Regions from separate parts of the Homo sapiens genome. Here region 2 is linked to region 1. The links come from fine-mapping of genetic effects on plasma protein levels. A gene starts in region 1. The other region holds a variant in brackets. All regions are shown on one strand. Distances are between the middles of the regions.

What was found. A credible set is the group of variants that fine-mapping cannot tell apart. PIP is the chance, under the fine-mapping model, that this variant and not a neighbour inherited with it causes the effect. The UK Biobank Pharma Proteomics Project read protein levels with antibody pairs (Olink). The fine-mapping took linkage between variants from a reference panel, not from the people measured, so its PIPs are less certain.
Region 2: its variant is the best candidate, but not a certain one, in a credible set for the plasma level of the FRZB protein (UK Biobank, PIP 0.87).

What each region holds. Positions count from the first base shown.
Region 1 is chr2:182,862,349-182,870,689 of GRCh38, forward strand. FRZB (frizzled related protein) reads right to left here and starts at 4,289. Exons shown (of 6, transcript NM_001463.4): 1 at 3,727-4,289. The coding sequence starts at 4,204. RefSeq lists an enhancer at 3,452-4,420.
Region 2 is chr2:182,829,399-182,837,739 of GRCh38, forward strand. FRZB (frizzled related protein) reads right to left here. Exons shown (of 6, transcript NM_001463.4): 6 at 3,877-5,567. The coding sequence ends at 5,451. Among named protein-coding and RNA genes, the nearest start is that of FRZB, 33 kb to the right of the region's middle. The variant C/T (reference allele first, on the strand shown) is at 6,757.

The DNA of each region.
Region 1 (8,341 bases):
ACCATAAATTTTCTTAACTGCTTGATTCCTGGGTTTCTGAGATGAATTATTTGTAATTAACTCCTCCACCAGACTCATTCTTTTTTCTGTCGCTCCCAAGGGGATCTGCTCTTGAGCCTGAGGTCTAGGTCAATTTGTGTAAAAGGAAATACTAACTTTATATATTTAGAAGAAATAAGATTTGTTTTTCCAGTTAGGTCCCAGTGTAAAGCTTTTTTGTTTTGTTTTTCCCCAGAGATGAACTAATAAAAGTTCTAGGCTGCATCTGCATTTACCAACATAACCATTTCAAAAACAAAATAGAAAATGTTAGTCAATTTGTTTTAACAGTGATAATAGTAAAACAGCAGCAGCACTTTTTTCAGTGCTTACTAAGTACTAAAGCAATGCTTTATATGCTGTTTAATTTCTTTTCTTTTCTTTTCTTTTTTTTTTTTTGAAACACAGTCTGGCTCTGTCGCTCAGTCTGGAGTGCAGTGGCGCCATCTCAGGTCACTGCAACCTCCACCTCCGGAGTTCAAGTGAGTCCCTTGCCTCAGTTTCCTGGAGTAGCTGGGACGACAGGCACGCACCACCATCCCAGGCTAATTTTTGTATTTTTAGTAGAGACAGGGTTTCACCATGTTGGCCAAGCTGGTCTCCAACTCCTGACCTCAAGTGATCCACCCGCCTCGGCCTTCCAAAGTGCTGAGATTACAGGAGTGAGCCACTGCACCAGCTTTAATTTCATCTTTACCATGCCCTTGGGATGTAGATAGTTTTGTCCTAATTTTACAGATAAGAAAACTTTGAATTACAGAGGTCATATAATTTTCCTATAACAATAGTTGATGTCGGGGCAGAGTCATTCACACCTGGTCTGCCCCACTCCAAGCCTATCCTCTTTACTCACCACACAATATTAAAGATTTGACTGAATGTCATCACTAACTTGCTGAATGACTCAATTGAGCTGAGTTTTCAGATAATCAGTTGTACATGTAGTCACACAAAGTTATGCAAATATAAAATGTGTAAGATGAATAATAATGGTCAGGATGGAACCCGTTCTTTTCAAAAATATGATTACCCTTAGTATTTTGAAAGCAAAAAGTAGTTTCAAGCATTACTCCATTTCAGTAAGACTGCTTTGTAAAAGGTCCTAAGCTTGTTTGTGGAGTCATGATATACTATGAGAGAACAGATCCCCATGAATGGGTAGGATTTGAAAATCCTCTTGGCATCAGAAGAATGTGAAAGATTGTCCTATTTTATTCAGGGAGACCTCATTTTTATATCTAGTTGGACAGATACTAGTCAAAAGACACAGGGATTCTGTTTATACCCAGTTGAATAAGAAAAAAACCTTGCTTTGTGAACTATCACTTCCCACTGAACCAAAGAGTATATTGGATATTGCATGGTAAATTACACTGGCCACATGTGGTAGTTCCTAAGTAATTCCAGGTGTCTGACAGTTTGACCCAGCATAGGGAATGTAATTTTCAACAAGCTGGCCCTGGAAGCCAGGAGACCCTTCAGGCTACAATCTACACACTTCATTCCCAATTTCCACCTCCCCCCACCTTTGAGCTCCCCTTGCCATCATAGCCTCTGGTTCACACTGAAGCTTATGGAAGGGAGCAGGGATGCCATCACTAACTATGATTCCAACTACCACCTATTTTTCTAGCAAGGATGCTGCCAGTAAAGCAAATACTCTGGCATTTTAAAGAAGCTTAGAAATCAGGTCCCATGAACTGACAAATTGTTTCCATGCATGTCCTATTTGAGTGCTTCAATGAGGCAACTGTTTCCATGTTTGTTCCACAGTGATTGGTAACTCAGGGACACTTAATGAAACTGCTTCCTATCCATATTGACTATGGCTTTTTGAGAGCCATTAACCTTGCCAAACCTCACTCACTCTAGGTCCACCTCTAAGGGAGGTTTAAGAGCAAGTTTTGTGCTTTACGGGGAGGAATGCATTTCAGCCTGAACCACTGCCACCTCATTCCTAGCCCTTGGCCTGAGAGGAGCACCTGCATTTAACTGATTCTAAGTGCCTGGCAAACCAGAGCGGCAACTGCACTGAGCACTTCCAGACTCTGCAGTCTGTGACTTTAGTGAGTACGAAGCCTCAAGCATGCTCTTTTAGCAAAGATTAATAGCAAATACATTTCTGTGATGATTTTGCACAACTAGCTTTTGGTTCTTGATTAAAATCAAGAAGACAATAGGTATATTCAAAAAGTGATAAACTAAGTGAGGTCACCATTAAAAAGTTCTTGAAATTCTTCTGTTTATTTTTTTTCCTTCAGCTATTTTTACAATTACTTCTCCTTCTCTCACTTTGTTAAATGAGTCAACGTGCACAGAAGGTAATTTTTCCAAATCAATTTCCCGATAACTAAGAATTACTACCTGGAAATGGACTGGGGACATGCGCCTAGACTGCGCAAGTTGAAAGAGGAAGGAAAGTTGATGCCCAAGAAATAAACAGATGGAGGCAACCAAGTCAACACATCTAAGAACAGAGTTGTTGGGGGGTGGGGGATGTGGTATGAAAGAGGACCACTCATGAAAAAAAATTGCCTTCTTTATAAAATATATGAAGGGTAAAATTTGAGGTTGGGTTAGTTGGTAGAAGTAATACTGAGTTAGAATTAAATGGACCATAATGAAGTAGGTTTAGTTGGGGTCTTAAAGTTACAAATGTCATAATTAGACTAAACACTAGTGAGAAAACAACTTGTGATTGACTCCATTAAATTTAGAGCTGCAATAAAGTTTTATGGTAGGGAAAGACTGAAATGACTGTGGTTGGTGCACACACGGAAAAGGAGCATGAAATAAGGTATTAAAGACAATTTTTTTTTCAAAACATGAGAGTGGAATAAGGGGTGAGATTTAAAATAACATTACGTGAGTGTATGATAACACGCCTTAAATATAACTCCTTTCATCTGTATGCCACTTATAAAATGACTTGAAGGCATGTGGGCATGTGAAAAGAGCTCAGTAATTTCAGTCTGCCAGCTCTATGGCAAGCCACAGAAGCTAATTAACAGTGCATAGCAATGTTTCACAATTGTTTCATTCTGGAATGGAAGAACAATTTATCTCATTGAAAGGAGGGGGAAATTTAAGGTGAAGGTAATTGCTCAAACTGGATCTTGAGCAAACACATACCCCTAACATCTGTCGGTTAGAGTAAGGTTATTGAAATTATCTTGGCATTTTTAATTAGAAGAAAATGGGGCTTCAGTTTTCTGTTTCCTCCACACAATCTTAACAAGCATCTAAGACACTAAAGATACAGAAACCTGATGACTGAGATTGCCTGAGAATCAGCAAAGAAAACCCAATGATTATAAACACATTTTAAAAGAAAAAGAGCATCACTTTACAAAATGTGGCTACTTGCACATGTAAGGAGTTGAAGTGAAGGATTCCTGTGGAGTAGAAGTGTGATGGGTTTGGAATGCATGGATTGTTTTAGAAAGATCGCCTATTGGAACACAGTGCCAGAGTGCATCAGTTTGGAAGGTGATAAGGTGAGGGTTTTTTTGTTTTTGTTTTTGAAAAAAGAAGAAAGAAGAAGAAGGGTCTTTGATAGAGGAGCAGTTATGGGAGAGATTAAGTGATCCGAAGAGAAAAAAATTAGAGAGTAAAGGCTAGTAACAAGGACTCCAAGAATTGAGGAGGCTGTAGGGTAAGGGAAGGGTGGGCCGTGTCAAAACTCACCAGCTCCGTCCGCAGTAACGATGGCCTCGGGAGAGATGCACACGCCCCTGTCGTACACTGGCAGCTCCTCGCAGGCCAGGTTCTCCGGCCACGAGTGGCGGTACTTGATGAGTATGGGCTCACAGCCCTGCCGGGCCCGCTCGCACACAGACTTACAGGGCTTGATGGGCTCGTGCTGGAAGTCAATGGTGCAGATGGGCGCGTACATGGCACAGAGGAAGAAGAGCAGATCGGGGCTGCAGTGGGTGCCCAGCAGACCTTCGAACTGCTCGATGGCCAGGATGGCGTTGGCCTGAGTGCTGTGGTGCAGGTGGTTGGGCATCTTAGTCATGTTCCAGGGCAGGGACTTGCACAGGGGGATGCGGACGGGCTCACAGGCTGCAGCCCGAGCCCCGGGCACCCGGAGCAGGCAGAGAGCAGCCAGGGCAAGCAGCCCGGCCCGCAGCAGCAGCATCCCTCCCGGGCTGCCGCAGACCATGATCCCGGCAGGATGGGGCAGGGTGCAGCCGCGCAGTGGACGCCAAAAGGCCCGCTCCGCCGTCTCCGCCTCCCCCGCTGCAAGTGGACACAAGGATCTGGGAGCTTCTCCTCCCCCGGCAATCACCGCTTCCTTGGATCAAATTCCCCCAATGGGGTCCCACGAGCTTTACCGAGCTCCAGCCACCGCCCCTGCCGCCCAGGCTGCTCTTTCCCAACGTCTAAGCCTTCGGAAGCAGCAACATCTATTTATTCCTCTCCCTCTGGCAGAAGCATCAGACTTCGCAGATCAGTCAGATAAGAGGGACACGAGAGGAGGCGAGGAAGACATAAAAACAAAAGTAGAATTCAGCTGAGAGCTAGTTGGAGCTCTGGGGTGTCTCCTCCCCTAGATCACGCACACAAAAAGATGCTAAAGAAAGCATTAAATTCCCCAAAGTGAGGAGGACAGAGGGGTTGGGGGGAAGGAGGGAGGAAAAGCTCCTAATGGGAGAGAAGGGTGCAGTAAGAGTTTACAAGTCCTGTGTGGGCTAAGAGCTGCGGCCGCCGCTGCGGCTGCGACCCTGGCTGGCAGGAGGGACGCTCAGGAGGAGCCCCGCAGGGACGTCTGTGCCTCTGCCCGGGCGGCTCTGCACTTTCCTACCTCCCGCCTGAGAGGGAGCTCCGCCCCTGGGGCAGTCTCTGCCCTCCAGTGCCGGCTGCTCTTCCCGAGAATGGAGTGGGCGCCCGGGGAAGAGAAGGCCTGGGAGTCGCAGGCGGTGGGGTGCGAAGCCGTGCGAGTGCGAGACCCCAAGACAGCGCCGAGTCGAGCGCGCCCTCACACTAGGGAACCCGTCTTTGGCCCCAGAAACGAGCCCCTAGCCCCTCACTGAAGAGCCCACCCCAATTCCCTACGGAAAAGTCCCCCTAGTTCCCCACTTGGGAACCCACCCGAGACCCTCCTTCCTGGAGGTATTTCCTTTAAGCAAACTACAGCTTTTCCTCTGCAATCACTGGCTCTGCAGAAAGTCAGACCTGGTGGGGGGAAAGGCTTAAGCAATGTCACTTTGTCCAAGTAGCGGAAAACACAGACCCCTGCGAGCAACGGTGGAGCCATATCAACCCAGAGCTAGTGACTACAGAGGTCTCCATTTTCAATAACTGCGGGGGAGGAGGTGGGGGGAGGATTGCCTTTAAAAAAAAAAAAAAAGAGAGAGAGAAACAAAGAAATGCTGTTCATGACTACAAATAGGCCACCAGAAGCAAGGAAAAGGGGTTTTTTCCTTCTATTCCCGCCCCCCCCACCTAGTGGAATTAGAACTCTTGAGCTTTGCTCCTTAAGGGTTAACGTGGAAACTAACAGCTCTAATACACTTGGACTTTTTTTTTCTGATTTTGCTCACGGATAACATGGCAGATATTATTTGTTATTCTCAGCAACAATTCTGCCCGACACTTAAAAAAAAAGTGTAGGAAAACGACATCACGCAGGTAATAATGATGATTATAACAACAATCAAAACCTTTCCATCCAGATGAGTTCAATCTGGAGGAGAAAATGGAAAACAGATCCCCTCCTGGTCTGCTTCTTCCACTAATGAGCTCCCTCTTCCCCCCACCCCCGCCCCACTCTACCCTTTCAGCTTATATTGTAAATGGAATGACCTGCAGAGGCCTTCACACTATGCCCTCTCAATGGGAAATCACTGAGCAAAAGGATTGCCGAATGTCAGAAAACACAGCCTTCATTGAGAGGAGAAGGAAACAAAACCTGAAACAAAACAGGAAGTCACCTTTGCTCTGCATCACTGAAATATTTCTCTGCTTCAATTTAGCCATCTCTCACCGTCCATAACAAGCAGAGAAATATGTCCCCACTTCAGAGCACATAGTGAGATGCTCATTTTCATTCCCTAGAGTGACTTGACAGCACTTATAAAATGTCAATGCTAACTTGAGTTATGGAATTTTATATCTAAAATGATCATAAACAGCAGTTTGTGACTGCTGTAAATTTTTTTGGAAGGAAGTTTGTTCCACTTATGGTGGCGGGGGCGGGGAACACCAGATGGTAGACAGGGAGTCAGTTAGTATACAAACTTTGCCTGGTCTACAATTATCTAGTGTCATGTAAGAGAACAAATTCAAAAATTGTACAAACGAATTTAAAATGATTTATCAAGTAAAATTTAGAGGAAAAACAACTTTAAAAGACAGTCAACATTAGAACATTTTGGGACTATTTTGTATAAGAAAAATATAGCTGAGATTTTCAATAATTAGAAGAAAAAACATCAGGAGTAGATGTAGTAGATTGTTTGCTAAATACATTTTTCTGTTCATCTTAAGTCTTACAGTGTGAGAAGAAATGTGCCAATAGTTTTAAAGGTTCTACAACTATTTGAAACAAAGTCTGTTTTCCTTCCCCTGCACAAAAGTCAGCTATCTTCTTTGTCTAATAGGTCCCCTTACAACTTTAATCCAAATTTGTTTTTATAAAAGCCCAAAATAAATGTCACTGTCTTGAGGAAGCCCTTTTGAGTACCTTGTCTAGTTGTGTTCATTTTTCTGGTTAGTTACCCTTGAACAGTGTTTGTTTTTACAAATTATTCCTTTATTTATTTATTTATTTATTTTGAGATGGAGTTTTGCTCTTGTTGCCCAGGCTGGAGTGCAGTGGCACTATCTTGGCTCACTGCAACCTCCACCTCCCGGGTTCAAGAGATTCTCCTGCCTCAGCCTCCCTAGTAGACTCACAAGCTCCCCACTTGTGAGTCTCCAAAGTCTGTTATACCTCTCAAAGATATGCCTTCTTGTACCCATAGCTTTGCTCTCATTTATAAGTGAGAACATACAGTATTTCATTTTCCATTCCTGAGTTAAATCACCTAGTATAATGGCCTCCAGCTCCACCCAAACTGCTGCAAAATACATTATTTCATTCTTTCTTCTGGCTGGGTAGTATTCCGTGGTGTATATATACCACATTTTCTTTATCCACTCATCATTTGATGGACATGGACACTTAGTTTAGTTCCATATTTTTGGTTGATGGGCACTTAGTTTGGTTCTATATCTTTGCAATTGTGAATTGTGTTGCAATAAACATATGCATGCAGTTGTCCTTCTGACAAATTGATGTCTTTTCACTTGGGTAGATACCCAGTAATGGGATTGCTGTATCAAACTGTAGGTCCAGTTTCGTTCTTTGAGAAATCTTCACACTGTTTTTCATAAAGGTTGTACTAATTTACATTTCCACCAGCAGTGTATAAGCATTCCCTTTCACCACATCCACACCAACATCTATTGTTTTTGTTTTGCTGAGACGGAATCTTGCTCTGTCTCCAGCCTGGAGTGCAGCGATGTGATCTCAGCTCACTGCAACCTCCACCTCCCAGGTTCAAGTGATTCTGCTGCCTCAGCCTCCCGAGTAGCTGAGACTATAGGCACGCACCACCCTGCCCAGCTAATTTTTGTATTTTTAGTAGAGACAGGGCTCACTATGTTGGCCAGGCTGGTCTCGAACCCCTGACCTCACTCAGGTGATCCAACCACCTTGGCCTCTCAAAGTGCTGGAATTACAGGTGTGAGCCACTGAGCCCAGCCAAGTTTTGCCATATTTCCCAGGCTGGTCTCAAACTCCTGGGCTCAAATGATCTGCCCACCTTGTCTCAAATGATCTGCCCACTTACAGGTGTGAGCCCCCACCAAATTATTAATATACTAATACTCTGCTGGAAACAAAAAATCTATGGACACCAGATTCAAGGACTTCAAAGGGCTCCACACAATGCATATCCAGGTTATGATATGCATTGGTTATGATAGCCAGAGGACACCTGGCTGTCTGAGAGCTGCAGCATAGCGCCCCCTAGCACCTAGTTGGGACTATGGGTTAATTCCAGGCTCAACCACTGCTTAGGAAGTGCACCCAGACCCAGTGATGGCCAGTCAAGCTTCTTAGGATGAGTAATGATACCATGATCATTGACATTTGGTTTAACTTCCTGACAGGTAGGTGTTCCTGTGGCAATGTCAAGAAAAAGATCATGCTAGAGTATATTACTTTGATATAGCCATATTACCAAAATTCAAATTTGGCCAATTTCCCCCTCCCTGCCCCAATTTTGCAATGTCTTATTTTGTCAGTAATTTG
Region 2 (8,341 bases), 33 kb before region 1:
GAAGACTTCACCTGGAGTATCATGCATCTTTTAAAGCTTTGATATATTACTTGAGTTTTAGGTCGTAGAGAAAGTTTTCCAATAGGAATTTTGTTCATATTGATCTCTCCTTTTGCCAAGTTGTCCCACAGTTCAACTCAAATTCTTCTTTTCAGTGCTAGGACAGGAATACCATCTCTGGGAAGCCATGATTCCCTCAGAATCACCAAAATAATGTAGAAATAAAGACATTAGAGTGAACTGCATCTGCTTTATTTATTGGATTTACCACCCAGTATAAACAAGAAATCCTTTGTTCCCTGTTTCATTGACTTCTTAACATCTCAGAGCTATCCTATGTTTCAGACATCACCCGACCCACCCTTGCTGAGGCCCCAGACTATCCTAAGTCCAACCCTGCAATCATAACATCAACCTCACATCGTGATGCTAAGTGTGTGGGGAGGGAGGTGGTGGCTGTTTGCAAGAGTGGCCACAGTACCACTGTGTAATGAGTGGGGTCATTCCCCTCCACATCCCTGTGGTGAGTAGAAAATTCTTTCCCGCATTTTCTTTCATTTCTGTGTCAGTTTCCTCAACAGCCCACAAATCCTTTTTTTTTTTTTTGGACAAATTTCCTTGAGCACAACCTTTCCTTCTTCATGGGACAACTCCTCAAGTTCTCAACAACCACCTAAGTAGAAACATGACAAACGTTTGCATTTCATCGGAAGAAAAACATATTTAGTTGTATTAACATGTTGAATCCCTGTCATAGTGAAAATACTTAATGAATGAAAAGCAGGGGGAATTAGGTCAGGTGGAATAGTTTTTCTAGATTATGGAGGACTCTGGTGGTGGGAAACATAGGGGGCATAATCTAAAAAGGAGAAATGGGAGTTCCCAGTGGAAGTAGTCGTTCTCGTTTTATTTGTAATAATTATCAACTTTTAATTTCAACTTTCTTCCAGGTGTTGTTGAATACAATTAACTGTTTACTTTTCTACAAATTCAAGGGAAAACAGAAACCTTGAAAAATGCTTTTCTGAGAGTCACACATTTTTAAACAACTAATGCCCCCAAAATTACTTAATTCACCTGCCTGTCTGTATGGAAATAATTCTACTGAAATTCTGATTTCATAAGGGAGGACACCTGAAGATGTGAAGTGACTGTATCTTGGATTAGAGTTGGGCCTATATTATATAGGCTTTCTAACATAGTTGGTAGACCTCAGTTTAAGAAATAATAGCTATTGTTATATTTATATTATTATTTATTATAATCCAATAATAGCAATAGCTACCACTATATGCCTGACACTATGCTTTTTCTTTTTTTACAGTGCTAGGATGCATTTACCTTTTTATCAGAAATTGCAGTGGTGGAAAACATATAATTTGGGAAATAAGATTATGAGGATCTAAGGCCCAGCTCTGCTACTTACACAACTCTGAAGTTCTAAATACTCATTTAAAAAAAAAAAATCTGTTATATGGGAATAAAACATCTACTTCAACAACTTTCAAGGAATAAGTGAGGTAACATATGCACAAGTGTTTCATATAGAGTTCCAGCCACTGTTAGATGTTATTACCCCAAACAGATAATTATGAAAGGTATGACTATACTGTTTTTGTTAATATTAATACATCTGGGTACCATACTTTTAAATTTTATAGGCTGGATTTCAGTAACACCATATTAGAAGTCTCTGCTTTATTTTTACCATCTTCTTGAATTTTTGTGTATTAAAATATGTTAAAACTCAGTGCTAAATGTCAATCTTGAAATACCTTTAGTCATTTTACTTGTTGAAATGTAACAGCAAATAATTTCTTGCAGAAGGCAATAGGTAGTGCTATTTGCTCACAGTGATTATAACTTTTGTTTTTGCCTTCTTAATGTGTAACACATGTGGAAAGACAGTTTGTCTCACCCCATCCCTGAATGCTGGGTGCAACATATGGCACTGAATCAGATTACATTGTATGTGACACAGTAAAATACATATCCATGAAAAGAGAATCCATGTTTGCTGCTATTTAAGTATTTGCTACTTTATTCAGCATGCATCTGACTTTAATTTGGCTAAGAAAATTAAAATCCTAAAGTTGAATAAAATTTTTTAAAGAAATATAAATTTTATCAATCTCAAGGTTACTGACAAGGATGCATGTATATTAAATTTTTAGTGGCTTTAAAAGTTACTATCTGCAAGAAAACCCTATAGAGAGGCATTAACGAGGTGTCTTTGTACTATGGCAACTAGAGTAGAAATGGTTTTGCAGTCTCCTGAGAAACGTGACCATCATGATAAATCACGCCATCCTCCCAAAAGAGGTCTGCACAGTTTATTAATGAAGATATTGTAGCTATCAAACTGAAAAACCAAATGTACTTTATTCATGGGCTTTATACCATTAGAAATGTTTAAACAGCTGACAGAAGCCTCATATAGGTGAGCAAAATCAAACATTGCCACTATAGATGGTAGTGGTAAAACAGTAGGTTGTAAAATGGCACCGAATGGAAGGTGGTTTAAAAAAAAAAAAAACTGCTGAATCTAAGAATCTGGCCGTGTTTTGTTTATATTAAGCATAAAGTGTGTCAAATTCCTACACAGAAACTGATCATACCCCCTTTACCCAACCCCCACCCCCCAAAAAAAACTGCAGAAGCTGGAAACATCTGCAGCTTTTATACATCAAAAGAGTTCCTTACTTAACATTGCTTACTGTGCATTGAGAGAGTTGAGGTTTGTGGATTTGAGATAACGGTTCCTTTAAACCTCTCCTGTAGTCAATTCTTGTCCTTCTTTACAGAGTTAACGTGAGAAAGCCTGAGGAAAACAGGCTGAGGCACCAGCACTACTTTCCACCCCTCTGTCCTCAGGCTCAAGTTGAGGCTTACATACCAGGAAGAGAGATTCTCAGGGGCAGTCCATCCACGGTGGCGCTTCATTACTCCCCAGTGACACCCAACTCACCTTTTAAGGGTAGGACATCAGCACCTCAAAAGAGATGTCCTTGCCATCTGAGAATATAGCAACAATGGGCAGATGGCAAGCCCTTTGGAAGTGGTCTTTTGGAAGCTCAAAAGACTATGCAGTCCTATAGGCAAAGGTGGGAATGTTTTCTTCTGGGGCTGGGGAAATTGTTGGCTTTGGAGAGTCAATCAGAAGGCAGGAATGTTCCCTTACTCTGTCACCTTTAAATATAGGGAGATAAATCTCCAAGTAAAGGGTTTATTTGGGAATATAAGAATTGGAATTGTAATTCTGGGCACACAAACCAGTGTAGCCTCTAGTTGTGTTCAAAGAACAAAGAGAAAGGCTGGGGTTTTATTGGGGAAGAGAGGAAGGTGATCTAAATGGTTTTGAATGAAAGTTCACTGGAGCCAGGCGCGTCTTGTAGGATCTAGCAAGTTCTGATTGGTGAGTGGCAGCAGCTAGGTAACTTTATCTTAAGGTTAGAGTTAGGTCTTCGTGATTTTTCTGTTGAACTGCAAAAATGGTTCCTGGAACAGGGACCTGGGTGCCTTTCCCCATGGCCTCCCGACTCCATTTTAGTTGGGTATGATATGAGTGACTCCAATTTGTAGAATGAACTTTCACACTTTTGTTGTTGTTACAGAGACAGGGTCATGCTCTATCGCCTACGCTGGAGTACAGTGGCCGCAATCATAGCTTACTGCAGCTTCAACCTCATGGGCTCTAGCCGTCTTCCTTCCTCAGCCTCCCAAGTAGTGGGGATTACAGGTGCACTCACCACACCCAGCTCACACTTTTAAAATAGAACATTTAGATAGATGATTATTTACCATTTTAGGAAACTTTTGTTCAGGAATGAATTTCATCCTTGCTTGATTATCCTTGTAGAAGGAAACATAGCACGATTTTTGCTTCATAAGCATTTTATTTTCAGCACGCCACAGCTTAGAAATTTGGTTCTACTAATAGCACACATGTAAATGGCAGAGAATGAAACTTTCAAGTAATTGGCACAGGCTCTAAGGAACTCTGCCAGAGGAAGGAAGTACAGATGCTCCGCCATTTACGATGGGGTTACATCTGGATAAACCCATTCGAAACTGAAAATATCGTAAGTTGAAATGCATTGGGTTACATCCTGATAAACCCATTGTAAGTCAACAAATTGTTAAATTGAAGCATTGTAAATTGAATCATTGTAAGCTAGGGACCATCTATAAAAGCATCATTTGTTCACCACAGCCCCTGGGATCTCACCACAGCTTGGGTAATGAGAAATGTGCAATTGGTTCAAAAGTCGAAATAACCTCTCTCCTGACAACCATAATTCATTTTACTAGACATTTTTCGCTGAGCATTAAGCAGCACAAATCCAAATGATAAAGTGCAGGCCAGTTTGCAGGCCTGTATTTTAATCCACCTTGGGTGTGAGTGCAAGGACACACATGTACACAAATACAGACACACACACAACAGAAAAAACAAAAACAAAAAAACCTGCATATTTTATCACTCTGTAATCTACAGCATTTTTATGGAGCCATGTACTTTTAAAAACTAACCCTGGTGCACGTGCATACATAATCTTTTCCTGGTCAATACGGCAATTCTGATTTATTTTAAAAGAAGAGAAAAAAAAAGACTTTCACCAATGGGTTTATTTAAAAGGAAGCAAATTAAACAAAACTATGGTGATAACAGCAGATGTCTAGTTATAATTCATTTCTCTAATGCTGATTAATATATTCATGAACAAATCAAATGTATTGCCAAAAGAAGAATGCTACCATTAACACCCCAGCGGCTACTGGTTTCAGTTGTGCTTCTCAATCAGGCAAAATGTTCTTTCTTAAGCTCCTATTTATTTTACTTCCTGACAGTCTCAAAAATAATTCATCTTGGGTGTTGTTTCCTCATAAACACTTCCTGGTGCTTGATTGCTTTGCCTATGTGACATTTGACTTCAAACTGCCATTTTACCTTTATAAACATTTGGAACTTTCTAAGCATGAGGAGAATGCCCAAAAGGCATACAAAAATAAGGCTGTAATTAGATCGGCAGAGTATGTTTTAAGGCATATCTAGCTTTCTGTGAATACCAGAAACCTCTCTTTTCATCCAATATTGCATTCCCAATTGGGGTGCAGAAAGTAAATTAACATCTGGAGACTCCAGCAAAGAGGCTCTGGTAACAGCATGTTTAATTTATTATTATTGCAAAAGAACAGTTTTTCTCATGATTAGTGAAATAGAAAACTCACAATATACTTAAGAGTCTGCCCCCAAACCATTACAAAGGGGTTGAGAGAAGAGAGAAGCAGAAACCAAAAGAGAAACAGAAGTAATAATCAGTTATCACATGATTTTTATAGTAAACAATAGAATATGATGTGCAATAGTGCAATTTTCCTTTGCTAGTCCAGCAATGCAAGTAAGTCTTAATAGGAAGTCCACTGTGTTACTTTTTGTATTTCGGGATTTAGTTGCGTGCTTGCCGGGGGTTCGAGTTCCTGCCAGACTTCTGACTCTGAGTGGAATCACTATTGCTAGAATCACTTTTACTGAGTCCAAGATGACGAAGCTTCATATCCCAGCGCTGTGAAATTTAAAATAGAAAATAGTCACAAGCACATATCACCAGGGTCATTATTTCCATGATTCTAACAACTGGGTCAGACTGCAAGTTCAGATCTCTGAAGCATTTTGCTACTTTTCCAAAAGTATCAATCTATTTCCCAGGGTAACAAGAAAACTGATGCAATATGAACATTATTCTCTGACTTTAACAAGCGCAACATCTATAATGTATTTAGTAATGCTTTCTTATCAAACCTTAAACTTAAAATGTCCATGTCTATAAATGATGACAGAAATATCTCCCTATATCTCTGGGTATTTCCTGAGGTAACATACAGGAGGCTAGTGCTTCACAGATACTCAACAAATGGAAGATTTACACACAGAATTTGAAGGGAAGGCTATTTTTCAACATCCTCTCTTAATACACATAAGAACATAGCCTTTTAAAGTCTATGTGATTTGAGCAGTGAAAAAAAAATGGAAATTTTTTTGAGGGATGGGGGGGTCTCAAAAATATTTTTCTAAGTAATATCCACTAAGTACAATGAATAAAACAGACAAGGTCCTGCCCTCGTTCTAAGTGTTACAAAGCAGGTATTAGCAATGTTTTTAATAAACACAATCAAGTTTAGTAATATTTCATATTAACAATGTCAATAATATTTTCATGTAATTTAAGTTAAATGGAAGTTATATTACATGAGGATAGGTAGGGAATACGAACTACAGCTGTACTTCCCAAACTTCAAACACGGATATCATATGGGGAATTTGTTAAAATTGCAAATTCTCATTTAGCAGGTCTGAGACAGGGCCGAAGATTTTCATTACTAACAAGCTCCCAGGTGATACCTATGTTGCTGATCCAGGGACCACACTTTAAAGAGCAAGCACCATCAGATCCTTGGGTCAGATGGCCCAAGTTCAAATTCTAACTCCACCACTTACTGTGTGAAGTTTCTTGAACTTACTAGACCTCATTTTCATCATGTATATGTTGGAACTGATAATAGAATCTACTTATAAGTAGATACATCTGAAGATTAATAAAAATATAAAGTGCTTAGCACATAGTAAATGTGTTATTGTTTTTCTGTTACTGAAGGTAATTCTTCATTTCAGTATTCTTTACTCCACAATCTTGTCTTCATATTTTAAAAACAGTCTGATTCTCAACTTCCCAAGGAAGTCCAAACATCTTGAAT[C/T]GTCTGCTATAAGAGACTTAGGTAAACAACCATTTGCATGAAAAAAACATAATAATGTTTCTTATAAAATTATTGATTCATCCACTGAGAGCAAAACTCAGCTAAGAGCAAATCTGATTGAAAAAATAACATCCTCCATAAAACTCTTTTTACACATCTTCAAATTGACTGGAAAACTAAAATAGGAATCTCAATAATTCTGGCCAAAGGAGATTTTCTACCCAAACTCTTTAGCCCTCAATATCTGCATATGAATTTAAAATTGTTCAAATTATTGGTTTCTTTCCTTTAGAATATTTAAATCCAGACTGAGAATATAAATGACTTTACAATAATAACTCTGCAAGTCCCCTGCGGAAAACAATGGGAAATATTGCAGAAAGCAATGGGAAACAGGACAAACAAGCCATGTGTCCTGTCAACAACACAATGATATTGTTTTGGTACCAAAAGAGGAGCAGTAAGCCTTGTTACATGCTTCGCAGCAGGGATATTGAAAGCTTTTCCAACTGGTACAGGAATTTAGGACAAATTCCAGTTCTGCATTAGCAAGCAGAAAACCAAATTAAAGACAGTAAGAGATTCCAACATACTGAACAAGAGCCACTTTTTTCTTTAATAAACACCAAACTAATTGAAGAGAGATGCAGAGAGAATGCCCGCAAGTCTGAACTTGAAATGCATCTCCCTTTTGACAAATCTACTAAAGGGGAGAAGAACTTACTGGAGGGTAGTTTCTCCTTACAAAATAATGCCCTCTACATTTTTGTAGGTCACTTAAACCCAAACGTGTCTGCCGTGTCAAGTGCCAGATGTATAAGATAAACCGCCCAGGGGTGTTTAACTTACCATGTAAATGTTTCCCAAGCCTTCAAACTTGCAGAAGGAAGAGGATGTATTATGTTTGGTACAGTTCCCACTCCCCCCACCCACCCACACATCCTTTGAGATTTTTTTGTCCCCCCATGCATTCCCCCACCCCATTCTTTTCTTTAAAACAGATTTGCTTAGTGCAGTAAGAAGAAACAAAACCTTCTATAATACAGTACTGTACTATGTGATTTTAAAAAATGTATCAATTCCACAATCTAAGAGTTATTTGGCTTAAAAATAAGGCTACATTACTGCTCTAAGGACCTAATTTATTCAGATCTCTTCTATACAGATGAATGTAGCTACACTTTGTACATAGGAATTGCTGTTTATTCATCGGACATCATTGTTTATTTTCCTTCCCATCATTTATTCTCCCCTTCTCACAAACTGCAGTTTGTTCAAAGAAGCAATATCCCCAGGTTTAAAAAGACTACATTTTCTAGCCTGTTTTGCAGCTAAGTAAAAACTGCTTGATGAGGCTCTTGGAAATCCCTTTTACCTCCTCTTTTTCCTGCCTGAAATGTACATGTGATACTAGAGGCAGAGCAGCCATCTTGTGACCTCCAGGTGAACATGAGTATGAAAGCGATGCCTTTAAAAATGGTAGAGTGATAAGCTAGAAGGAGCCTGACAACATGAAACCACCCTACCAGGACTGGACTACAGCTAGACTCCTTGTGAAGAGACATTAGGGCAACTGTAGTTAGAT